Linked DNA regions of Homo sapiens. The protein of the gene in region 4 interacts with the protein of the main gene of each other region in a pairwise test. Each region holds a gene or a part of one and is shown on either strand. Other genes may lie near its edges.

The links.
Region 1: the proteins of BTRC (region 4) and AXIN2 interact in binary tests that used the Homo sapiens proteins (3 or more experiments, as listed by UniProt).
Region 2: the proteins of BTRC (region 4) and NFE2 interact in binary tests that used the Homo sapiens proteins (3 or more experiments, as listed by UniProt).
Region 3: the proteins of BTRC (region 4) and TACC1 interact in binary tests that used the Homo sapiens proteins (3 or more experiments, as listed by UniProt).
Region 5: the proteins of BTRC (region 4) and NHSL2 interact in binary tests that used the Homo sapiens proteins (3 or more experiments, as listed by UniProt).
Region 6: the proteins of BTRC (region 4) and TRIM36 interact in binary tests that used the Homo sapiens proteins (3 or more experiments, as listed by UniProt).
Region 7: the proteins of BTRC (region 4) and JPH3 interact in binary tests that used the Homo sapiens proteins (3 or more experiments, as listed by UniProt).

Annotation. Positions count from the first base shown.
Region 1 is NC_000017.11:65,534,149-65,537,648, reverse strand, and holds part of AXIN2 (axin-2), read left to right. Parts: coding exon 1-325; intron 326-585; coding exon 586-780; intron 781-1,095; coding exon 1,096-1,329; intron 1,330-1,927; coding exon 1,928-2,023; intron 2,024-3,500. UniProt on the Homo sapiens protein: Inhibitor of the Wnt signaling pathway. Down-regulates beta-catenin. Probably facilitate the phosphorylation of beta-catenin and APC by GSK3B.
Region 2 is NC_000012.12:54,291,611-54,294,813, reverse strand, and holds the end of NFE2 (transcription factor NF-E2 45 kDa subunit), read left to right. Parts: exon of another isoform or gene 1-64; intron 65-1,432; coding exon 1,433-2,440; 3' UTR 2,441-2,703; downstream 2,704-3,203. UniProt on the Homo sapiens protein: Component of the NF-E2 complex essential for regulating erythroid and megakaryocytic maturation and differentiation. Binds to the hypersensitive site 2 (HS2) of the beta-globin control region (LCR).
Region 3 is NC_000008.11:38,846,236-38,849,735, forward strand, and holds part of TACC1 (transforming acidic coiled-coil-containing protein 1), read left to right. Parts: intron 1-463; coding exon 464-584; intron 585-1,719; coding exon 1,720-1,788; 3' UTR 1,789-3,500. UniProt on the Homo sapiens protein: Involved in transcription regulation induced by nuclear receptors, including in T3 thyroid hormone and all-trans retinoic acid pathways. Might promote the nuclear localization of the receptors.
Region 4 is NC_000010.11:101,535,665-101,539,164, reverse strand, and holds part of BTRC (F-box/WD repeat-containing protein 1A), read right to left. Parts: intron 2,623-3,500; coding exon 2,512-2,622; intron 873-2,511; coding exon 794-872; intron 1-793. UniProt on the Homo sapiens protein: Substrate recognition component of a SCF (SKP1-CUL1-F-box protein) E3 ubiquitin-protein ligase complex which mediates the ubiquitination and subsequent proteasomal degradation of target proteins. Recognizes and binds to phosphorylated target proteins.
Region 5 is NC_000023.11:72,137,845-72,141,344, forward strand, and holds part of NHSL2 (NHS-like protein 2), read left to right. Parts: intron 1-596; coding exon 597-2,927; coding exon of another isoform or gene 2,928-2,932; exon of another isoform or gene 2,933-3,500.
Region 6 is NC_000005.10:115,159,909-115,163,408, reverse strand, and holds part of TRIM36 (E3 ubiquitin-protein ligase TRIM36), read left to right. Parts: intron 1-3,500. UniProt on the Homo sapiens protein: E3 ubiquitin-protein ligase which mediates ubiquitination and subsequent proteasomal degradation of target proteins. Involved in chromosome segregation and cell cycle regulation. May play a role in the acrosome reaction and fertilization.
Region 7 is NC_000016.10:87,682,508-87,686,007, forward strand, and holds part of JPH3 (junctophilin-3), read left to right. Parts: intron 1-1,634; coding exon 1,635-1,759; intron 1,760-3,500. UniProt on the Homo sapiens protein: Junctophilins contribute to the formation of junctional membrane complexes (JMCs) which link the plasma membrane with the endoplasmic or sarcoplasmic reticulum in excitable cells.

The DNA.
Region 1 (3,500 bases), on a different chromosome or scaffold from region 4:
GCTCCCGCTCCCCGGACCACCACCACCACCACCATTCGCAGTACCACTCCCTGCTCCCGCCCGGTGGCAAGCTGCCTCCCGCGGCCGCCTCGCCGGGCGCCTGCCCCCTCCTCGGGGGCAAAGGCTTTGTGACCAAGCAGACGACGAAGCATGTCCACCACCACTACATCCACCACCATGCCGTCCCCAAGACCAAGGAGGAGATCGAGGCGGAGGCCACGCAGCGGGTGCACTGCTTCTGCCCTGGGGGCAGCGAGTATTACTGCTACTCGAAATGCAAAAGCCACTCCAAGGCTCCGGAAACCATGCCCAGCGAGCAGTTTGGGTAAGTGCCGGGCGGACCGCAGTGTCCCGTGTGGGGCTTGTCTCCCAGCCAGGTCCATGGGCAGGTGTGAGGTGGGAGCCGCATTACAGGCATTTAGTTTCTAAGAGGGCGGCAGAGTGCACGGCCGGGTGAGGGTGCGGGGAGCAGGTGCATGGGTCTTTCGTGTCACCAGCCCCCCGACTTGCTGAATTGTCTGATTCTAGGAGTCCCGGAGATTTAACCGGGTCTCTGGGTTGGGTGTGGTTCTTGGTTCCCCACAGCGGCAGCAGAGGCAGTACCTTGCCCAAACGCAATGGGAAAGGCACGGAGCCGGGCCTGGCCCTGCCCGCCAGGGAAGGAGGGGCCCCCGGCGGAGCTGGGGCCCTGCAGCTTCCCCGGGAGGAAGGAGACAGGTCGCAGGATGTCTGGCAGTGGATGCTGGAGAGTGAGCGGCAGAGCAAGCCCAAGCCCCATAGGTAAACACCGCTTGCCGCCGCCGCGGCCGCGAGGGTCATGGGCACTCAGTACGGAGGTATTGTGGGAATGGCTGTTTTTGCAGTCCGCGGAATACAAATGTGACTATTTGCTCCTGCCATCTTAATATTAAACGTTGGACTGAGCAGACCACAAAAATGTCATGTTTTGGCACTGACCCCTGTTCATGTTATGGTAGTTTTTTTTTTAACTCTCTCTCTGAGCAGAATAGACAAGTTTCTATTGAAGTCACATTTTCCAGTTCTTCTAACCCAGTTTCTTTCCTTCTGTTTTCTCTCTGCTCATTCCTTGTTTAGTGCCCAAAGCACAAAAAAGGCCTACCCCTTGGAGTCTGCCCGCTCGTCTCCAGGCGAACGAGCCAGCCGGCACCATCTGTGGGGGGGCAACAGCGGGCACCCCCGCACCACCCCCCGTGCCCACCTGTTCACCCAGGACCCTGCGATGCCTCCCCTGACCCCACCCAACACGCTGGCTCAGCTGGAGGAGGCCTGTCGCAGGCTAGCTGAGGTGTCGAAGCCCCCAAAGCAGCGGTGAGTGGAAGTGAAGGGTCCTAGGTTGAGGCAGGGATTGGGTTTGGGTGGAGACCTGGTCTGTGGCTAATGGGGAGGGCCTCTCTTTCTGCCTGGGTCTCAAACCCTCCCATGAGAAGAAGAATTACTTATGGATGAGTAAGCTGCTGCTTTCCAGCTTCTAGAAATTGTTCCCTTCAGTTATGTTCATTCTACTAGAGTTAAGCCAGGATCTGTGAGGCAAGTCATGCCTAGAATTGGGAGAATGAATTTCAGCAATTGCTTACAAATCCCATTCCTTACAAATGTCTTGATTGTTTAAGGCTGGTTAGTTGAGTATATAAGAAGCTGTGAGATGGAGGATCAAGAGTCCTCAGCCCTTTGCTGGGGCTGAGAATGTCCCATCCTGGGCTCCCAGGGGGGCTTAGAATGGCTGTTCCAAGACGTCTTCCTGGCCTCTTCAGCCACTGTTAACCCAGGGTCTTGGTTGGGTCTCCGTAAGGATGGAAGTCGGGTTCGTGTCTCTTCAGGAGGCCAAATAGTAATTTTCTGTCTGCTTTTCAATTGCTCTGGGGACAACAGTGTACCTCTAAATCCCTCGCCCTGGCTGTGTCCTCAGGTGCTGTGTGGCCAGTCAGCAGAGGGACAGGAATCATTCGGCCACTGTTCAGACGGGAGCCACACCCTTCTCCAATCCAAGCCTGGCTCCAGAAGAGTGAGTGTCTTTACCTGACATTACTGAGATCTGCCGAGTGCTTTATGTTTCAGAATATTCGCTATCTGGAGTTTCATTTTCATGAAACTTTTTTTGGTTTTTAAAATCACTTTGATTTTAGCGCTAGTGATGAGGAACAGTAAACGTAGATGTTGCCATCCATGTCCTGCCGACAAATGCATCATAGCAAAAGTTTTTCTGGTCATACACAAATCAAAAGCTGGGACATGAAGCCATTAGCAGAAGTGTAGAAGGGACCTCAAATTCAGCTGGAAAAGTTGCCCCCATTCAACTTGCAATTTAGTAGTACTGGAAACATTTGTCACCCCTGAGCAGAAAGATCATTCTCCACTGTGGCAGAGGTGGAGGGGACCATCCTTGTGTTTTTGTTTGGAGAAGACAGAATATCTTCCCCCAAATTGGGCAGTGATTCTTTTTGTAAATTTAGTCTCTTTCAAAGTAGGTTGAGGAGCCTGCTCGTTTAATTACTGGATGGTGCAATTAAAAAGAAATCTGCTAAAGAGATCTAAAATGGTCTGTATCAAGTTTTCTTTCTTAGTGTCTTCATCCTGAGCAATGAGCAATGTTTGAAGTCCTCAATAGGCCACTGCCCTGGACCCTTTCATTGTTTCAATTGGTTGACCCTAAGTGTACCAGCTCTCTGGGTCTGGGCCAGCCACTTTTTTTTTTCTTTTTGAGACAGAGTCTCGCCCTGTTGCCCAGGCTGGAGTGCAGTGGCTTAATCTTGGCCCACTGCAGCCTCCGCCTCCTGGGTTCAGGCAGTTCTCCTGCCTCAGCCTCCCGAGTAGCTGGGATTGCAGGCGCCCACCACCACACCCAGCTCCTTTTTTGTATTGTTAGTAGAGACAGGGTTTCGCCATGTTGGCCAAGCTGGTCTCAAACTCCTGACCTCAAGTGATCCGCCCACCTCGGCCTCCCAAAGTGCTGGGATTACAGGCGTGAGCCACCACGCCCGGCCTAGCAGCCTTTTTTTCAAGCCATTCTACAAAATCTCAGAAGAAATGGGGAAATGGACATGACTGTGTGATAACCCCCATTAGTTGTTCTCATTCTGCTGGAATAAGGGGTGGGCTTTAGGCATTCTGAGATCATGCCATCCCAAAGGTGTCCTGCTCTGGGTTTGTCTCTTTAGCACTCTCCAATCCAGGTGAGACCCGGCATCTCTGTGATAATTTCTCTTCTCTCATCTTCTTGAGGAAGCACCCCATTTATGCCAGCCTGAAAGAGGCCGCCGTATACTTTCATTTGGTGGCGGTGGGGGAAATGATACCAATTTGTACAACCAAAAGGAAATCATCCTTTTCTGCATGCTGCATGCAGCACATGTGGGGTTGGACTGTGTGTCCCCCAGAGCTGCCTGACTCTGGGATGTGGGGCTCTGCCCCAGCCCCCACTTTGGGTTTACAATTGCAGCCCTAGTGTTTGGATACCCTGTCACTTATGCACATGTGCGCAC
Region 2 (3,203 bases), on a different chromosome or scaffold from region 4:
ATCCTGCCATCTTCTTCCCTCATTACCTCCGCCTGCCCTTGGCAACTGGGCCCGTTTACCCCAGGTAACAGAGCAGTAGTTCAGGGGCCTCAGGAAGGGGAGTCGGACTATGCCAGGGTCCTCTCCTCCTGCTACTTGGACAAAGGGGTGTCTGTTGGCTTGACAATGATGCCTTTGTCCCCAGCTGGGCTGGAGCAGGGTGGCTCCCTGATGTAGGTTGGGGGCCTTGTTTCTAGCATGTTCTCTACTTCTCGCTGCACCTGGGCAGGGACAGAGGGACTGAAGAGGAGAAGGCAGAGCTTGTGCTGGCTCCCCAAGGTGCTTCTTAGCCCCCAGCCACCCCCCTTTTACTACCCTGCTACCATGCTTAGCACCCTCAGGATCTGCCCTAGGCCCTCTTCCCACACAGCGGCTCCCTCTGCTGGGCATCTGGGGCATGGCCAGGATCTGAACTTGACCCTTTGACCCTAGATAACTGCAGCAGGAAAGGGTTCTGAGGGGTCATCTTGGATAAAAAGGCTTTGACTTCCTGAAGGAAATAAAGGAACATGAGCCATTTCTTTTTTTTTTTTTTTTGAGACGGTGTCTCGCTCTGGCGCCCAGGCTGGAGTGCAGTGGTGCAATCTTGGTTCACATCATTCTCCTGCCTCAGCCTCCCAAGTAGCTGGGACTACAGGCGCCTGCCACCACCCCAGCTAATTTTTTGTATTTTTAGTAGACAGGGGGTTTCACCGTGTTAGCCAGGACGTTCTTGATCTGATCCTGTGATCCGCCCGCCTTGGCCTCCCAAAGTGCTGGGATTACAGGCCTGAGCCACCATGCCTGGCCGAACATGAGCCATTTCAACCCAGTAAGAGCTTCTCCAAGGAGAGTTCATAATTGTTCCAATGTTAGGTAGTCTTTTCTGCAGTCCAACCTCAGTGACTTCCATTCTTGCTAAAGCTGCATTTTTCATTTTTTCTTTTTTTGAGAGGGAGTCTTGCTCTGTCGCCCAGGCTGGATAGTGGCACTATCTTGGCTCACTTCAACCTCCACCTCCGGGGTTCAAGCAGTTCTCCTGCCTCAGCCTCCCAAGTAGCTGGGATTACAGGCATTCACCACCATGCCCAGCTAATTTTTGTATTTTTAGCAGAGATGGGGTTTCACCATGTTGTCCAGGCTGGTCTCGAACTCCTGACCTCAGGTGATCTGCCGCCTTGGCCTCCCATAGTGTTGGGATTATAGGTGTGAGCCACCATTCCTGGCTTTAAGCTGCATTTTTCTTGCAACAACTGTATCATAACTTTGCAGGAAGCTTCCCGTGATTTGTGGCAACTTTGTTTCCTTGTTACTACCTCACTGCGACTTTCAGAAGAATCCAGCTTGTTCCTGAGAGAGTGTTGGTTTCTCTTCCTTAGTCTGTCTCCAAATCTCTTTGTGTCTTTCCTTGCAGGGTCTGAATGCTCCAAGTGAGCCATCATTTGAGCCCCAAGCCCCAGCTCCATACCTTGGACCTCCACCACCCACAACTTACTGCCCCTGCTCAATCCACCCAGATTCTGGCTTCCCACTTCCTCCACCACCTTATGAGCTCCCAGCATCCACATCCCATGTCCCAGATCCCCCATACTCCTATGGCAACATGGCCATACCAGTCTCCAAGCCACTGAGCCTCTCAGGCCTGCTCAGTGAGCCGCTCCAAGACCCCTTAGCCCTCCTGGACATTGGGCTGCCAGCAGGGCCACCTAAGCCCCAAGAAGACCCAGAATCCGACTCAGGATTATCCCTCAACTATAGCGATGCTGAATCTCTTGAGCTGGAGGGGACAGAGGCTGGTCGGCGGCGCAGCGAATATGTAGAGATGTACCCAGTGGAGTACCCCTACTCACTCATGCCCAACTCCTTGGCCCACTCCAACTATACCTTGCCAGCTGCTGAGACCCCCTTGGCCTTAGAGCCCTCCTCAGGCCCTGTGCGGGCTAAGCCCACTGCACGGGGGGAGGCAGGGAGTCGGGATGAACGTCGGGCCTTGGCCATGAAGATTCCTTTTCCTACGGACAAGATTGTCAACTTGCCGGTAGATGACTTTAATGAGCTATTGGCAAGGTACCCGCTGACAGAGAGCCAGCTAGCGCTAGTCCGGGACATCCGACGACGGGGCAAAAACAAGGTGGCAGCCCAGAACTGCCGCAAGAGGAAGCTGGAAACCATTGTGCAGCTGGAGCGGGAGCTGGAGCGGCTGACCAATGAACGGGAGCGGCTTCTCAGGGCCCGCGGGGAGGCAGACCGGACCCTGGAGGTCATGCGCCAACAGCTGACAGAGCTGTACCGTGACATTTTCCAGCACCTTCGGGATGAATCAGGCAACAGCTACTCTCCTGAAGAGTACGCGCTGCAACAGGCTGCCGATGGGACCATCTTCCTTGTGCCCCGGGGGACCAAGATGGAGGCCACAGACTGAGCTGGCCCAGAGGGGTGGAACTGCTGATGGGATTTCCTTCATTCCCTTCTGATAAAGGTACTCCCCAACCCTGAGTCCCAGAAGGAGCTGAGTTCTCTAGACCAGAAGAGGATGACAATGGCAACAAGTGTTTGGAAGTTCCAAGGTGTGTTCAAAGAGGCTTGCCTTGAGGGAGGGCTGGAATCTGTCTTCCCTGACTCGGCTCCTCAGGTCTTTAGCCTCCACCTTGTCTAAGCTTTGGTCTATAAAGTGCGCTACAGAAATGGCTTTTCACTGTGTCTTCCTTCTTGAGGGAGGGTGGAAGCTGAGATAATTATCTGTTTGAATCTTACCAAGTTCACTTCATTCTCCCCAGAGCTCTGTATGAGAGGTACCATAAAATTTGGGCTTGAGGCTGAGCATGGTGGCTCACACCTGTAATCCCAGCACTTCGGGAGGCCGAGATGGGCAGATCACAAGGTCAGGAGTTCGAGACCAACCTGGCCAAAATGGTGAAACCCCATTTCTACTAAAAGTACAAAAATTAGCTGGGTGTGGTGGTGCACGCCTGTAATCCCAGTTCCTCAGGAGGCTGAGGCAGGAGAATCACTGGAATCCGGGAGGTAGAGGTTGCAGTGAGCTGAGATTGCGCCACTGCACTCTAGCCTGGGTGACAGAGCGAGACTCCATCTACAAAAAAAAAAAAAAAAATCTGGGCTTGAGCAGTATGGGGATCTACCACCTTCACCTCCTTTTCAGAGTCAGAGGCCATGGATGATCTGAA
Region 3 (3,500 bases), on a different chromosome or scaffold from region 4:
ACTGCGCCACTGTACTCCAGCCTGGGTGACAGAGCGAGACTCCATCTCAAAAAAAAAAAAAAAAAAAAAAAAAAAGAATGCCTTTCACATCTCATTAATAAACTCATTCCCTGTAGGCCCGTGTCTCACAGATGTCAGTGGTTAGTATCCCAACTCTAGCTGTGATCGTCTCCAAAATTATGCAGTCTGCTTTTGTACTGGTCTAAAAAAAAAAAAAAAATCTAAGACTGTTATAGAAACCATTTGCTAGTGAGATACAAATTTTGAAGTTGTCTGTAAATTGAATTTTTATAAATTAAAATGGAATTATTTAGGTCACCGATTTTTGTTTTTTTTCTCTCATGCAGTCAATTCTTTGAGGCCTGTGCCTCACAGATGTCAGTGGTTAGTATCCTGACTGGCTTTGACTAGTGGCTAATCATGTGCTTTTTGTCTCTTTATTACACCCAAACACCATAAACAGAGCCAATGAAGAGATTGCTCAGGTTCGAACAAAAGCAAAGGCTGAGAGTGCAGCTCTCCATGCTGGACTCCGCAAAGAGCAGATGAAGGTGGAGTCCCTGGAAAGGGCCCTGCAGCAGAAGGTACAGAAAGGGACCTGATCTGGGTGGCCACAGAGACGTTTGGTTTTCCTCCTCAGCAGTGACTCACTTAATGACAGATCTGGGTGAAAGAGGCCTTGGCTTTCTACTCAGACATTTCAGTCCAGCTCCTTTCTGAACTGATCCAGGTGGAAACAAACAAGTCAAACCATTAAATTTTCAAGCACATCATGTGGAAATCATCCACAGGCAGGGTGCAGAGAGGAAGTTGCATTTTAACTGAAGTTCAGAACAGCTTCCTAGTTGGGGTCATGAGACTGCCTTTCTTTCTTTCTTTGTTTTTTATGCAATATATTAATATGAAGCCATCTTCCCCCTTCATTGCTTTAGATCAGTGGTTTGCAGTTGGGGGCAGTTTTGCCCTCCAGGGGATGTTAGGTGTTAGGTAATGTCTGGAGATATATTTGTTTGGTTGTCACCACTGGGAGATGCTGCTGGTATCTAGTGCAGGAAGCCAGGGATGCTGTTAAACATCCTACAATGCACAGGACAGCCTCTGACAACACATTTACCCATCCTAAAACATCAGCAGGGCTGCTTTGAGAAACTGCTATAGATAAATGAAAACCAGGACTAGCAACAATCCCTGTTTCTCACTAAGCAATTTTTAGCTTTCCGTTTTTATATGTCTCCGGTGTATTTTCTTTACTGCATTTCCAATTATGTACTCATACCTGTGCCATCCATTCATCAAGAGCAGGAGTTTTTATCACAGGGTCTGTTAGCCCCTAGAACGGTGCTCCCTGGGAGATTCAGACTCCAGCATCCCTAGATATGCTAATGGATTGAGTGAGACCCAGATACTTATGTTTTTGACAAGTACCCCAGATAATTCCTCTGATAACAAGAAAATTGGGGAACTAAGAGATTCATGGACAAGTTTCAGAGGGCTGGTGACTGTCCTCACCCTTTACTCAATTTAAGCATGATTTTATGAGTACATTTTTTGAGGTGTGTAGCCTTTTTTTCTTTAAAGCATCTCTGATGTAGAAAAGTTAAAAATCACTGAATTAGGATGTCTAGGGTAGGGTAGATCCAGACTTGGGACTAGTTAACTCTATTTGCCTTTATTTCAGAATACAAAGTGGCCTGCATAATTATGTCATTTGTCTTTCAGAACCAAGAAATTGAAGAACTGACAAAAATCTGTGATGAGCTGATTGCAAAGCTGGGAAAGACTGACTGAGACACTCCCCCTGTTAGCTCAACAGATCTGCATTTGGCTGCTTCTCTTGTGACCACAATTATCTTGCCTTATCCAGGAATAATTGCCCCTTTGCAGAGAAAAAAAAAAACTTAAAAAAAGCACATGCCTACTGCTGCCTGTCCCGCTTTGCTGCCAATGCAACAGCCCTGGAAGAAACCCTAGAGGGTTGCATAGTCTAGAAAGGAGTGTGACCTGACAGTGCTGGAGCCTCCTAGTTTCCCCCTATGAAGGTTCCCTTAGGCTGCTGAGTTTGGGTTTGTGATTTATCTTTAGTTTGTTTTAAAGTCATCTTTACTTTCCCAAATGTGTTAAATTTGTAACTCCTCTTTGGGGTCTTCTCCACCACCTGTCTGATTTTTTTGTGATCTGTTTAATCTTTTAATTTTTTAGTATCAGTGGTTTTATTTAAGGAGACAGTTTGGCCTATTGTTACTTCCAATTTATAATCAAGAAGGGGCTCTGGATCCCCTTTTAAATTACACACACTCTCACACACATACATGTATGTTTATAGATGCTGCTGCTCTTTTCCCTGAAGCATAGTCAAGTAAGAACTGCTCTACAGAAGGACATATTTCCTTGGATGTGAGACCCTATTTTGAAATAGAGTCCTGACTCAGAACACCAACTTAAGAATTTGGGGGATTAAAGATGTGAAGACCACAGTCTTGGGTTTTCATATCTGGAGAAGACTATTTGCCATGACGTTTTGTTGCCCTGGTATTTGGACACTCCTCAGCTTTAATGGGTGTGGCCCCTTTAGGGTTAGTCCTCAGACTAATGATAGTGTCTGCTTTCTGCATGAACGGCAATATGGGACTCCCTCCAAGCTAGGGTTTGGCAAGTCTGCCCTAGAGTCATTTACTCTCCTCTGCCTCCATTTGTTAATACAGAATCAACATTTAGTCTTCATTATCTTTTTTTTTTTTTTTGAGACAGAGTTTCGATCTATTTTAAGTATGTGAAGAAAATCTACTTGTAAAAGGCTCAGATCTTAATTAAAAGGTAATTGTAGCACATTACCAATTATAAGGTGAAGAAATGTTTTTTTCCCAAGTGTGATGCATTGTTCTTCAGATGTTGAAAAGAAAGCAAAAAATACCTTCTAACTTAAGACAGAATTTTTAACAAAATGAGCAGTAAAAGTCACATGAACCACTCCAAAAATCAGTGCATTTTGCATATTTTTAAACAAAGACAGCTTGTTGAATACTGAGAAGAGGAGTGCAAGGAGAAGGTCTGTACTAACAAAGCCAAATTCCTCAAGCTCTTACTGGACTCAGTTCAGAGTGGTGGGCCATTAACCCCAACATGGAATTTTTCCATATAAATCTCAATGAATTCCCTTTCATTTGAATAGGCAAACCCAAATCCATGCAAGTGTTTTAAAGCACTGTCCTGTCTTAATCTTACATGCTGAAAGTCTTCATGGTGATATGCACTATATTCAGTATACGTATGTTTTCCTACTTCTCTTGTAAAACTGTTGCATGATCCAACTTCAGCAATGAATTGTGCCTAGTGGAGAACCTCTATAGATCTTAAAAAATGAATTATTCTTTAGCAGTGTATTACTCACATGGGTGCAATCTTTAGCCCCAGGGAGGTCAATAATGTCTTTTAAAGCCAGAAGTCACATTTTACCAATATGCATTTATCATAATTGGTGCTTAGGCTGTATATTCAAGCCT
Region 4 (3,500 bases):
AACAAAAAAGATGGGCTCAAGTTGCTGGAGGCACTACCTCATGAATAGGCTGCAGAACTAAGGGGTTGACCAGGGGGATTCATGCAGATTCCCAGGGCAGTTTTTTTTTTTTTTTAAGACAGAGTTTCGCTCTTGTTGCCCAGGCTGGAGTGCAAGCATGATCTTGGTTCACTGCAACCTCCGCCTCTCAGGTTCAAGTGATTCTCCTGCCTCAGCCTCCTGAGTAGCTAGGATTACAGGCACCTGCCACCATGCTTGGCTAATTTTTTTTTTATTTTTAGCAGAGATGGGGTTTCACCGTGTTGGTCAAGCTGGTCTTGAACTCCTGATCTCAGGTGATCCATCTGCCTTGACCTCCCAAAGTGCTGGGATAATAGGCATGAGCCACCGCACCCGGCCCCCAGGGCACTTTTTGAAGGCACAGGTGTACAGGTCCTCAGATTTTGGACAGGTTCCAATTTGAATAATTATATTCTCTCTCCCTTAGTACCCCCTGCTGTTTCTGGTGGATACAGAATTCTTATTCACTCCCTGCACTAAACTGTTGTGTAGAGTTGCTGTGCAGCTGTTAAACAGCTGCCACATTTCTCTCCATATATAGTCTCTAAAGCATTTTTGGATGAAAGGAATTATATAAACATATTTTATTGTCATGTACTGGTTGCCTTACCACTTAGTTGTAGGTTTTGTGAGGTTGTAACTATTAAATTCAAATCCATATTCCACAGCACATCAACGTTTAATTTCTTCCCCCACCTGCTCTCCAATGCTCTCTAAACAGCAAGGCTCTTACCACAAGGGTCCGTAGACAGAGTGTCCCTGCAGGAGCACGGGGGTCCAAAGCAGCCACAAGATCCCACACTTTAATTTTTCTAAAGATCAAAAAGGGGACAAAAATGTTAGTTAAAAGCAAATGTAAGAGAAGGCAGGGAAGAATAGCAGAAATTCATGGCAATAAATATGGATGGTGAGTATAGTTCAAATGTACGTGATTAACCTACAAATGAGAAACAGGCTAGCTTTAACCAAACTGAAGACAGTTAACAGTAAAGTTATACCATACTTTGGGATCAAGAGGAGATCTTGTACATTAGACCTTTTAATGATATTACACAGACCTAGAAATCTACAACTGTGAAGCATCCTCTTCCTGGGCACTTCTAAGAGTGGCCCAGGTCACATGTACTGAGGGACTGGGGTCCATGTAAGAGCAATGGAGTTTATATAAGCAAGCCCTCATCTTTTGATTTAAATAAGATAAGTGTAGCTCTTCCAAAAATCTTTTAATAGGCCATGTTTCCTCAAGGTACATAGCAGACAAATTCCAAGACAGGTGGGTACAGATCAAAGCCAGGACAATAAGAAAATATTGTCTTGACCAAGCTGGAACATGTCACCACACTCTGAACAATTTCCCAAGGTTGTAACAGTGATGGCTGTCCCAAAGCAGAAGAAGTGAGCAGTCTACACTTCCTGCTGCTTGCATTGGCTAATGAATGTATCAGTGTAGTTAACTCATGAACTAAAATAATGTTGTTAGTTTCTGATATTTAAAAAGCTGCCAAAATCAGGCAGATTGACAAAAAGAAATGATAAGAGTTCTTCCTAAGTGAATAACTATTTTTTTTTCTTTTTTTGAGACGGAGTCTCGCTCTGTTGCCCAGGCTGGAGTGTGGTGGCGCAATCTTGGCTCACTGCAACCTCTGCCTCCCTGGTTCAAGCAATTCTCCTGCCTCAGCCTCCTAAGTAGCTGGGATTACAGGCGCCCGCAACCACACCTGGCTAATTTTTGTACTTTTAGTAGAGACTGGGTTTTGCCATGTTGGCCAGGCTGGTCTCGAACTACTGACCTCAAATGATCCACCTGTCTCGGTCTCCCAAAGTGCTGGGATTAAATGCATGAGCCATTGTGCCCAGACTACTTTTGTTTGAATTTACTCTGTGTTTAGGATTGGTGGACATGGGGTCCATTCACAAAATTAATGGATTCCATAACCACTAGAAATTAGAAGAAAATAAAGATGACTAAACTCATAAATGAAATGCTAGGATGACAAGTGATGACAAGAGAACTGTACTCTTAAAAATTACTCAAAGAGATAAAAAACCCAAGAAATCAAAATTCAAGATCTTACCACACTAAGTCCCCAAATACTGCCCTCTAGTGTTTCTGTTTTGTTAACAGGTTACCCTTTTACATGGGTAGCCTGTTAACACTGGGTTTTTCTTGTTCTTTGCTTTACAGGGCAAAACAGTCAAATACATAACCAAATAACCAAAATATGAATGACAACCATGTGCAAACAAGTATAATAAAATGAATGGGAAGAATATTTCAGGACACTAAACCAAGGAGAGGTAAATACACGGATTAAAGAAATATGGTATCAGATATTTTGTGTAAAATCTATAAGCTTTTAGAAACAAGGAATGGTTATGTTTAACACCATAAACATAAGGAAGGATTAAGACGTAGATTTTCTCTTTTTTACACTCTGTTAGCACACTCACCCATCATAGGCCCCACTGACTATCCTCTTGTTATCAAATCGAATACAACGCACCAATTCCTCATGGCCTTCTAACACTCGTAAACATGCACCACATTCTATGTCCCATAATCTGGAAGAGAAAATTAAGTCAGGTGAATTTTCACGTATTCTTTTCTAAGCCTGGAATGTTATAACAATACACCTCATATGCCTTCTAAAAATTCATAAAATAAAATCAATCACCACCCACACAGATATGTACTGCTTTCAATGTAATTTATTTCCTTTCTGCTATATAACTCACACAGAAATATGTAGGTTTAAGTTCAAATGTAAAATGTATTTTCAAAGCACAGGGCTTTACATAATTCTGTAAACAGGTTCTTCCAGGCATAAAAACGAATTCAATGCACGCAGTTGCCTGAGAAGGAAATGACCAAGCTAAGAAAGCAGTTTCCTGAAGTCACCAAACTGAAAGAGATACAGATTATCAGTGATGTCCTGTTCTCACAAAGCACCTCCCCCTCTGCCACGGCAGACACTTCTTTCACCACTGTCCAGGACAGCTCTTCTCAGAGAATAGAAATGCAAAGTCAGTTCTCAAGAACTTTTGTGTACTAATTATAAAAACTGTACGTTTTCAGAGCAATTCAAGTGATTTCTAGGAATAATTTCCTTAGATATAACAAACAGTAGCTCTTTTTTAATGGCCTTTTCATCCTTTTAATACTTCACTGAAGGGAGAGGATGGATAAATCTTCCAAATTATAATCATATCTATGTCATTCATCTTTGTGAAGGGAAAACCCCAAAAAGGACTTCCAACTGTGAAATCTTCATAATTTCAAAGACAGGTAACTCTCTGGCCAATTATGTAATGCTAAGACAAAAATTACATAATTTCTAGTAAGGAAACAAATCTTTCTTTTCATTTCTTAAAAACAATGGCAAAGAAAAGGCTGTTAGCTGTTTATTAGCACTTTTCAACGGTAGACAGGAGAAATTTAA
Region 5 (3,500 bases), on a different chromosome or scaffold from region 4:
AATAATAATGACATGACAGTATTAATTGTTTGTGTGTATGAGAAAACCTTTGGGGATTTGGAACATCCAAACGGTTTCCTCACATCCGTAGATTATCCTCAGCCTCTTATGTTGCAAAGCCTAAAAGTGATGGGTGCGAACAATGCAACCAGACTCTTAGCTTTGCATCTTGGGCATGCTCCAGAGTCATTGCTGGAGCCAAACGTCACACCATGCCGTCCTTAGTTCGGAAGCCTCTACTCTCATCTCTAGATGGATGAATGCTGAGGTCTGTGATGGTTTCATGAGCCTGGGGTGAAAGTATGGGGAAAATGCAAGGTAATCCCACGTGACACTTCAGCTCTAAGAGGAATAATCAAAGCTGGAAAGTATTTGGCAGCCATCTGGACCATTCAAGGGCACCGTATGTCTCACTGTGGGGTGATGGGCAAGGACCCAATTTCCCCAGCATCTTCATCCATGGAAGGGAAGAACCAAGGAATTCTGACCAAGCTGTTGGCAAATGCTTCTTGGCAAAAAGTTGGTGCTCCTGTCTCAAAACAGCTGGTGGGAGATCCCTTGCTGTAGCACTCATGTCCTGTGTTTATTTCCTCCAGGTCACAGCAACAGCCCAGCAGGCAGTGTGGCCCACTCTACCACCTCCGACATCAGGCCCAGTCACTCAGTTCCAGAAGGGGTTCATGGAAGAGTTGCAGTTGGTCAGGATGCTCGGTTCCCAAGTCTCACCTCGCCAGTACTGAGAACTCCTTCCAGTGAGCCGGACGAACCTCACCAGGCACGGAGTGGCCCAAACCCTCCTGGCATGGAGAGCATGGGAATGGTGTACAGTGTCCCCAGTTCTTGCAATGGACCTACAGAATCAACCTTCTCCACTTCCTGGAAGGGAGATGCTTTTACCTACATGACTCCAAGTGCCACCAGCCAGAGCAATCAAGTCAATGAAAATGGGAAAAATCCTTCCTGTGGGAATTCTTGGGTCTCTCTAAACAAAGTCCCACCTCTGGTTCCTAAGGAGGCTGCTACCCTCCTTGTCGCTCGTGATAACCCAGCAGGATGCAGTGGGTCAGCTGGCTACCCTGAGCGCCTTATTCAGCAAAGGCACATGCCCGAAAGACCCTCCAAGATTGGCCTTCTGACCAGTGGGACCTCGAGGCTGGAGACAGGCCCCGGTGGGGCCAGCAGATTCCGGGAGCGGTCACTGTCTGTGCCCACAGACTCAGGCACCACAGATGTGGACTATGATGAGGAGCAGAAGGCCAATGAGGCCTGTGCCCTGCCTTTTGCCAGTACGAGCTCTGAGGGCAGTAACAGTGCTGACAACATTGCCTCCCTTAGTGCCCAGCAAGAGGCCCAGCACAGAAGGCAGAGGTCCAAGAGTATCTCACTTAGGAAGGCCAAAAAGAAGCCTTCCCCACCCACACGCAGTGTCTCACTGGTCAAAGATGAGCCAGGCCTCTTGCCTGAAGGTGGGTCAGCACTACCCAAGGACCAGAGGCCCAAGAGCCTTTGCCTCTCCTTGGAACATCAAGGACATCACTCGTCCCACCCAGATGCTCAGGGTCACCCAGCTATTCCAAACCACAAAGATCCAGAAAGTACACAATTCTCCCACCACTGGTATCTTACTGACTGGAAGTCTGGTGACACCTACCAATCCCTGTCCAGCTCCAGCACTGCCACTGGCACCACAGTCATTGAGTGCACCCAAGTTCAGGGCAGCTCAGAGTCTCTTGCCTCACCTTCCACCTCCAGAGCCACTACACCTTCCCAACTCTCCATTGAAGTGGAGGCCAGGGAGATATCATCCCCGGGAAGGCCCCCTGGACTGATGTCACCCTCCAGTGGCTACTCCAGCCAGTCGGAAACACCAACACCCACTGTTTCCATGTCCCTGACCCTGGGCCACTTACCCCCTCCAAGCAGCAGTGTCCGGGTACGTCCAGTGGTACCTGAGAGGAAGTCATCACTACCCCCGACGTCACCAATGGAGAAATTTCCCAAGTCACGGCTATCATTTGACCTACCACTGACCTCTTCACCCAACCTGGATCTGTCTGGGATGAGTATCTCCATCCGAAGCAAAACTAAGGTGAGTCGGCACCACTCAGAGACAAATTTTGGCGTCAAGCTGGCCCAGAAAACTAATCCCAACCAGCCAATCATGCCTATGGTTACTCAGTCCGACCTACGTTCTGTTCGCCTGAGGTCGGTCAGCAAGTCTGAGCCGGAAGATGATATTGAGAGCCCTGAGTATGCCGAGGAACCCAGAGCAGAAGAAGTCTTCACCTTGCCAGAGAGAAAGACAAAACCTCCCGTAGCTGAGAAGCCTCCGGTGGCCCGGAGGCCTCCAAGCTTGGTCCACAAGCCACCATCTGTTCCTGAGGAGTATGCACTAACTTCACCAACCTTGGCTATGCCCCCCAGGAGCTCAATTCAACATGCGAGACCACTCCCTCAAGACAGCTACACGGTAGTGCGGAAACCAAAGCCCTCCAGCTTCCCAGATGGCAGAAGCCCAGGGGAGTCAACAGCACCCTCATCTCTTGTTTTCACGCCTTTTGCCAGTTCCTCTGATGCTTTCTTCTCAGGAACACAGCAGCCTCCCCAGGGAAGTGTAGAGGACGAGGGCCCCAAGGTGAGGGTTCTGCCTGAAAGAATTAGCCTCCAGAGCCAGGAAGAAGCTGAGAAAAAGAAAGGCAAGATTCCACCTCCCGTACCAAAAAAACCCAGCGTGCTGTACCTGCCTCTCACTTCTCCCACAGCTCAAATGGAGGCCTATGTGGCAGAACCAAGGCTGCCTCTCAGCCCCATCATCACCCTGGAGGAAGACACCAAGTGTCCCGCCACCGGCGATGACCTGCAATCACTTGGTCAAAGGGTGACTTCAACTCCTCAGGCTGACAGTGAAAGGGAGGCAAGCCCTCTGGGTTAGTAAACTGTCTGCTGGCTTTTTCCTTCAGTCACAGGAGAGATGAGGGTGAGAATGGAGTGCCAGAGATGGAAGCAGATGCCCCAGAATAATTATCCTGATCCCAAGTCAGTAGCGGGCACCCTTTGAGGGTTTGAGTTACTCTAAATAGGAACCACGGGCTGGCCTTACTGCCCTTGAGATCAAGACTAGCCCGAGGCAGATCTCCAAGGCCCAGTTTAGGCCACTCTCCCCTCTAAATCTCTAGTGCTGAGATAATGAAATCAAACTAGGTTCTAGCACCCTAGGACTTCAGCATCCCACATCCCTAGCCAAGCATGCATCCTGTCTTGGGAACTACTCCACCTCACTGTACAGTACTTTTCATTGGCTGCAGTGAATTTAGTTCCCTACATGGGACCCAGTACCCCACCAGACTGAGTTCAAGTGCCATGGCAGGCTCGGAGCCATCTGAAACAACGGAATATGTTGCCACCAGCAGCCTCTTTTTGTGCCTTCCGGAGGAAAGGGAGCTCACTTTCTTGGGTGGTTTGAGTTCTTTGGCTCTTCCTGGAACCATAAACATAATACA
Region 6 (3,500 bases), on a different chromosome or scaffold from region 4:
CCAGGTGAATAAATTAAAACTGTAGTTATAAAGGGGCCTCCCCCACTGTTAAAATGTCAAAATGAACTCTCGTCTTTTGATACATACTTGAAGTAGATATTGGATATTGAACATGAACTTTGTGTTAAACTCCTTATTAACTGTGTTTGTAAGTCTGGGCACAGTGGCTCACACCTGTAATCCCAGCACTTTGGGAGGCCATGTCGGGTGGATCACCTGAGGTCATGAGTTCAAGACCAGCCTGACCAACATGGAGAAACTCCATCTCTACTAAAAATACAAAATGAGCTAGGTGTGGTGACGCGTGCCTGTAACCCCAGCTACCTGGGAGTCTGAGTCAGGAGAATTGCTTGAACCTGGGAGGCGGAGGTTGCAGTGAGCCGAGATCGCGCCATTGCACTCCAGCCTGGGCAACAAGAGTGAAACTCTGTCTCAAAAAAAAAAAAAAAGCTATGTTTGTCTTTAGGAATTATTCTGACTGTGCAATGTACTTGATACATAGAATAATGGACTACTGAAATACTAACTAGGAAAACATTCATATATGGTAATAGGAAAATAAATACTGCAGAGTTAAGGAGTGGGACTACCTAATGGCTAGTCATCACCTTTATGTTTCCTCCCTTGCTGCCAATCTGGCGCACTGAGGAGGGAAAGACAGCATCCCTTGAAATCAGTCCTACTAGATAAAACTTGATATTCTGCTGGTAGATCTTCATTGGCTAATTGGGAACCCATGCTTGATTGACCAAAGAAAACTTTTTGTATGTTAATATTTAGCAAAAACAAATAAAATTTTAGTTATGTACTAGATATTTCTACTTATAATTAGATTGCACTTATATACATATTTCACAAAATTCTGTAGGCTTTTAATGTTAAGATTTGGCTAGTTTTTTATGTGATTCATATGAAGAACAAGATGAATGATTTTCTGTTTTCAGGAATTTACCTGACATGGTACTCTGTAGATGCTTAATAAATATTTGTTGAATGGATGTTGAATGAGAAACCTCTGCCACAGGATTTGTACAGAGAGTGCCACAATGGCTTATATTCAGTAATAATGGCATTTGTCTTTTGGAATATGAGCTCCATTACACCATACATTTCACTGTCTAGATCCGAAATAGCATTACTGGGATGTTTCTCCCTCTTCTTTAGGAAGAACCCTACGAAGTTAGATTATGTCCTGAGAGGGGAAACTTAGAATGGTGGAGTTTGAAAACTTTTCTCTGTAAAGAACAGTTACAGGAGATGAGAAGGGGTGACTGCAGAATATGATAGTTTTCTTATGGATAGAATGAGTATGCTGGATATCTCTAGCAGAGGTTCCAGGTCAATGAGTAGATGGAATAGGAAGGCAGATTTAACTTAGCATGAAAGAAGACACACGCGCACACACACCCCACTAAGGCTGTCCAGAAATGAAATGGGCTAAGTATATCAGACTTCTGCCACTAAATGTGTTTACATCAGGTGTCAAATTTAGATGCTGCAGGGCCAAACGGGTGCATTAATGAAGAGAGCCCCAGGCATAATAAATATAGGACTCTCCTTCATTTTAGTTTTTCGCTGTAAATATGGAGACAATAAATATTTGATTTTCCCTTTAGCTCAACTACTGTAAGAAAACCATCAGCCCAAAGTGACAGCAGCCAACTGATTTTACGACTCCTTATTGGAGAAGTAGAGTGTGGTTTGGGACTGTGGAGACTGAAACGGATGCCTTGTTAAAGGGGGCAGTAACCACTTGGCAGTGTCAGGGTTGAAGATGCCAGATTGTCAGATTTATTGGTTTTTCACAAAAACTTGATAGTGGTTTCCATGTGAAATCTGTTTTTTAAATATTTTCAATTCAGATTATTTAACAATACCACACCAGCTCAATAGGGCAGGACAGCCAAAACATGTCTTTGGCTGTGACCCATGCAGCATTTGGGCCATCAGTATCTGAAGACTTTGTTTAAAACAATGGGTGGGTGGCCACTGTCTGCAATATTGTGGAGGGTGTTTCTGCTGTGGGTGGTAGGTTGGGCCAGTTGTTCTGTCACATGCCATATCTCCAGCACTGAAGTTCTATGCCTTATTAAATACCAGTGGCATTCATTCATTCATTCAACAAATATTTGAGCACCTGCTGGTTACCAGATATGGCTAAATGGTTAAGAACAATGAGCGAGATAGACCCACTTTCTTTTCTTTTTTTTTTTAAAGACACATACCCCTTAGCATTGTGCAAAGCTTTATAACAGCTGTAATTACTAGAGCATAGTCCTTTATCACGAACACACACAGATCAAGTTAACAAAGAGAGAGCACCCAAAGGGTGCGAATGCTGTAAGTATGGAAATCATTCCTGGAGGTTTTAATGCAAATTTTAGGATTGTCCTTCACCAGTTTTAAACTAGTAGAAGTCATTGCAGTGCAAATGTGATGTTACTTGCCATCTATTTATTGGGCATTTGCATATAATTCTTTTTTTGGTAGATTCATGAGTAATATTCCTTTTTTTCTGACAGCTTTCTTCTTAAGTTTTTATCCTTTAGACATTTATTTGAGACAGGGTCTCACTCTGTTTGTTACCTGGGCTGGAGTGCAATGGCTTGATCATAGCTCACTGTAACCTCTAACTCTGAGGCTCAAGTGATCCTCCTGCCTCAGCCTCCTACATACCGGAGACTAGAGGTGCATGCTACTCACTCGCACCCTGCTAATTAAAAAATTTTTTTTGTGGAGAAGAAGGTCTCACTTTGTTGCCTAGGCTGGTTTCAGACTCCTGGCTTCAAGCAGTCTTTGTGCCTTGGCCTTCCAAAGTGCTGGGATTACAGGCGTTATTCACTATACCCAGTCTAGTTTTGCCACTGGTCTAATAAAGGGATTAATTAAACCCGGATTGTCCAGTATGGTAGCCACTAGCCACATGTGGCTATTAAGTGGTTGAAATGTGGCTAGTCTGAATTGAGATATGCTGTGAGTTAAAATACACAGAATAAAAAAGACTGTGAAATGATCTTTAATAATTGTTATATTGTTTATATTTTGAAATCATAGTATTTTGGATATAGTGGGTTAAATAACATTAAAATTAATTTCAATTTTTTTAATATGGCTACTGGAAAATTTAAACTTACGTATATTGTAGTTTTGGCTCATACATTTCTTTTGGATTATTTTGCATTAGATTTTTGACAGTTTTTTTTAAAGGGTACCTTGAAAGGAGAGTAAGATTTGTGTGCATAACACAGTAGCATATTAAATTATGTACAAATAAAAGCCATATTACTGTATACTTTTGATCATAAAGTATACAGTAAGCTTTCCCCCCAGTTTGTATTTTCTGGTTGTCTAAACTGAATATGTTCATTTTAGTTTTTTTTTTTTCTTTTTTTTAACAGTTATTAGGTCAGTAAAAAGTCAAACAAAAGATGTTTGATTTCACTTTGTATTTGCAACATTTACCTTAAGTATGATTGTTTAAAAATACAAATCTATATAGA
Region 7 (3,500 bases), on a different chromosome or scaffold from region 4:
AGAGAGCACCCTCGCTTCTTCTACCATGTGAGCACCCAGCAGGAAGGTGCTGTCCAGGACCCAGAAAGTGGGTCCTCTGCAGACACCAAATCTGCTGGCACCTTGATCTTGGACTTCCAGCCTCCGGAACTGGGGGAAAGCAATGTCTGCTATTGATGAGCCGCCCAAGCTGCGGTGCTTTGTTGCAGCCCCAACAGGCTAAGTCAGGAACCGTGAACAGGAGACCTCCCAGGGAGTCTGCTCGGAGGGGGGATTTGTCGTGGGGGAATTGGTCATTGTGCCTCAGTTTCCCCATTGTTGGGGAAGTGGTGCCCATGGCCACTGGCAGGCCCCCCCGGGGGCCAGCACACCAGGTAGGAAGAAATGCAAGCCCCAGGCTGCTGAGATGCACAGAGCCCCACATTCTGCCTTCGGGACGTCTGTCTAGTCCCTTGTCTTACAAAGGGTGGGCAGGTCCCCTGCAGGACTCAGCAGAGGGAGAGACACAGTCAGGGAGCGGCCAGAGGGGTGACGTGCCCGGCTGCCCACAGGTACAATGGCTCCTTCGTGTCACACATGGGTGTCGGCGTCATCTTTCGGCTGGGTGAGGGAACTGCCCAGCTGCCCAAGCCCTGGGTTCCCAAGTCAGAGTTGCTGGGATTACTGGGCAGGGAGGTGGTCCCGCAACCCACACCGGGGCAGTGGCAGGAAGCACAGACACACACAGCACAGCGGGCCGGCACCGCCGGGGTGGGTTGTCTGGGCTTGGACTCTTTCTGTGCACATGCTGATGTTTGTTGATAATAAGAACAGAAACATTTTCTTTTTTTTTTTTTGAGATGGAGTCTTGCTCTGTCACCCAGGCTGGAGTGCAATGGCGTGATCTCCGCTCACTGCAACTTCCGCCTCCCAGGTTCAAGCAATTCTCCTTCCTCAGCCTCCTGAGTAGCTGGGATTACAGGCACGTGCCACAACACCCGGCTAATTTTTGTAATTTTTAGTAGAGACGGAGTTTCACCATGTTGTGCAGGCTGGTCTTGAACTCCTGACCTCATGATCTGCCCGCCTCAGCCTCCCAAAGTGCTGGGATTACAGGCGTGAGCCACTGTGCCCAGCCCCTCCCCTTTTTTTTTTCCTTGAGACAGAGTCTTGCTCTATTACCCAAGCTGGAGTGCAGTGACGCGATCTCAGCTCACTGCAACCTCCACCTCCCAGATTCAAGCAATCCTCCTGCCTCAGTGTCCCGAGTAGCTGGGACCACAGATGCGTGCCATCACACCCAGCTAATTTTGTATTTTTGGCAGAGACAGGCTTTTGCCATGTTGCCCAGGCTGGTCGTGAACGCCTGAGCTCAAGCGATCTTCCTGCCTTGGCCTCCCAAAGTGCTGGGATTACAGGCGTGAGCCACCATGCCCTGCCCAGAGGTGTTTTCAAGCATGTCCTGTGCACTGGGCCTGGTTGGTTGATGCTCAGTGATGTTTATTGAATGAATGAATGAATGAACGAACAAGATCCAGAAGTCTGAGGGTAAACATGGGGTGCCAGCATCTTGTCTTAGCCCAGCCCGTTGTTGGGGGGTTGGCAGAGTACCTCAACCCAGACCCCTGTCACCTGTGCCCCCTGCCCCCCCTCACGCTCCTCCCTGTCTCCCCCAGGACCTCCCACTCTCGGGCAAAGGCCGAGGCAGCCCTCACAGCAGCTCAGAAAGCCCAGGAGGAGGCGCGGATCGCCAGGATCACTGCCAAAGAGTTCTCCCCTTCCTTCCAGCACCGGGAAAACGGTGAGTCTCGCCGGGCCTGATACTGGCATCGTGGGGAGGGGGTGCGTGGATGGCTGGGCAGTCCTGGCAGCAGATGTGTCCTCCAGAGCGGGTAGGCTTAGATGGGCTCAGCCCCAGCTGCTCCCCTGCCCGGTGTCTTCCTCTCCCGCCGAAGGTGCTTGTTTGTGCCAAGGCCTGGCCTGGCTCCCCGGGACACAGGACATGTGTCTTGGCAGGTCTCTCCCATTCCCACAGTCCTTGGGGCACCGCGTGTTGCTTGCCGGCTGTCCCTGACGGTGAATTCCCACCTGCCCAGCCTGTGCTGTCTGCTGCCCGCCCTCCCCCAGTGTTGTTCTAGAACCTTCTGGGATGATGGAACTATCTGCTGGGTCCAGCGTGGCAGCCATTAGCTGGGTGTGTCTGCGGTCCTGGCTCTTGACCTGCCTCTGATGTGAACTAACTTACCATTAAACACACCCAGTGGCTGCTGGGTTGGACAGCGTCACAAATGGCAGCTCCCGCTGTGCCCCTCGGAAAGAGCTGGAAGCTGCTGCCTGATTTAGGAACCTCGTCCTCCCTTCGAGGGGGGGATCATGGGTGATACGGCCCAGTGACAGTGGCGGGGGCGTGGAGGGTGTGGGGTGGGTGGCGGAGAGGCCGTGGCCAGCTGCCTCCCATCTCCTACCTCATCTTGGAGGAAGCTTCCTCTGCACCAGGAGGCCCCAGAGAATGGGGTTAGGAGCGCGCCCCCTCAACCCGAGCTCTGACCGGTGAGCGGTATTCGGATGAGGCTCTGCGCGCTGGAGGTCCGCACCTGACACCACAGCCCTGAACTTGCTCGCAACGCCTGCCACTCTGGCCACCAGGACAGGATGAGGAGCCCAGCCTGGGGGCTGCGGGGCTGGGCGCTCCCCTGACTGGAACGCGAGACCACATCATCTCTAGAGGTGACCGTCCGCCACCACTCCAAGACCTTGCCTTCACTGGGCGAGTGCCGGGCCCTGCAGAGCCTGCAGCTGCAGCCTGGAGGTCAGGAGGACGAGCCCCCGCACCCCCACCGCCTTGGGCAGCTTCTATTCCACTGCGTCCCCTCCACTCTCCTGGCCCCTCCAGACACACGCACCCCAAAGTGTCCAAGTGGGAGGGCAATGGGCCACGTGCCCCTGTGGCCATTGGCATCCTCCATGGTCTCGCCCTCAGGCCCTGAGTTTCCTTCTCCCTGGGGCCCCTCCTTGCCTCGCCCACGACCAGCTGCCTGGGCTGGGAGGCGGTGGGGCGCACACTTGGGGGCACACGTGTAGCGTGCACGTGCATGTGGGGAGTGGGTGCAGTGCTGCGGGATGGACGAACGGAACAGGGATGCTGGAGAGGAAGCCAGTGCCGTCGGGGGCACCTGCCAGAACCCTGGCTGGGCCACTCCACGCAGAATGCACGTAGGACGGCATGGGATTCCACGTACCAACCCTGGCCCATGGTCGCCTCAGCTCCAGCCCTGCCTGCGACTCACATTCCACTGCCTGCGGCCTGTTTTGTTTCCTCTCAGAGCCTCAGTTCCATGTGTGAAAGGAAGGGGACCAGACAGGGAACATTGAAGCCTCCATCCTGTGCCAAATCCCCCAAGAGACGCATCCACCGGAAGCTCCCAACGTGACTTATTTGGGAGGAGGGTCTGTGCAGGTGTCATTATGGAACAGACTTTGAGACAAGATCAGCCTGGATTGGGGTGAGTCCTAGATCCACGCGGCGTCCTTAGAAGAGACAG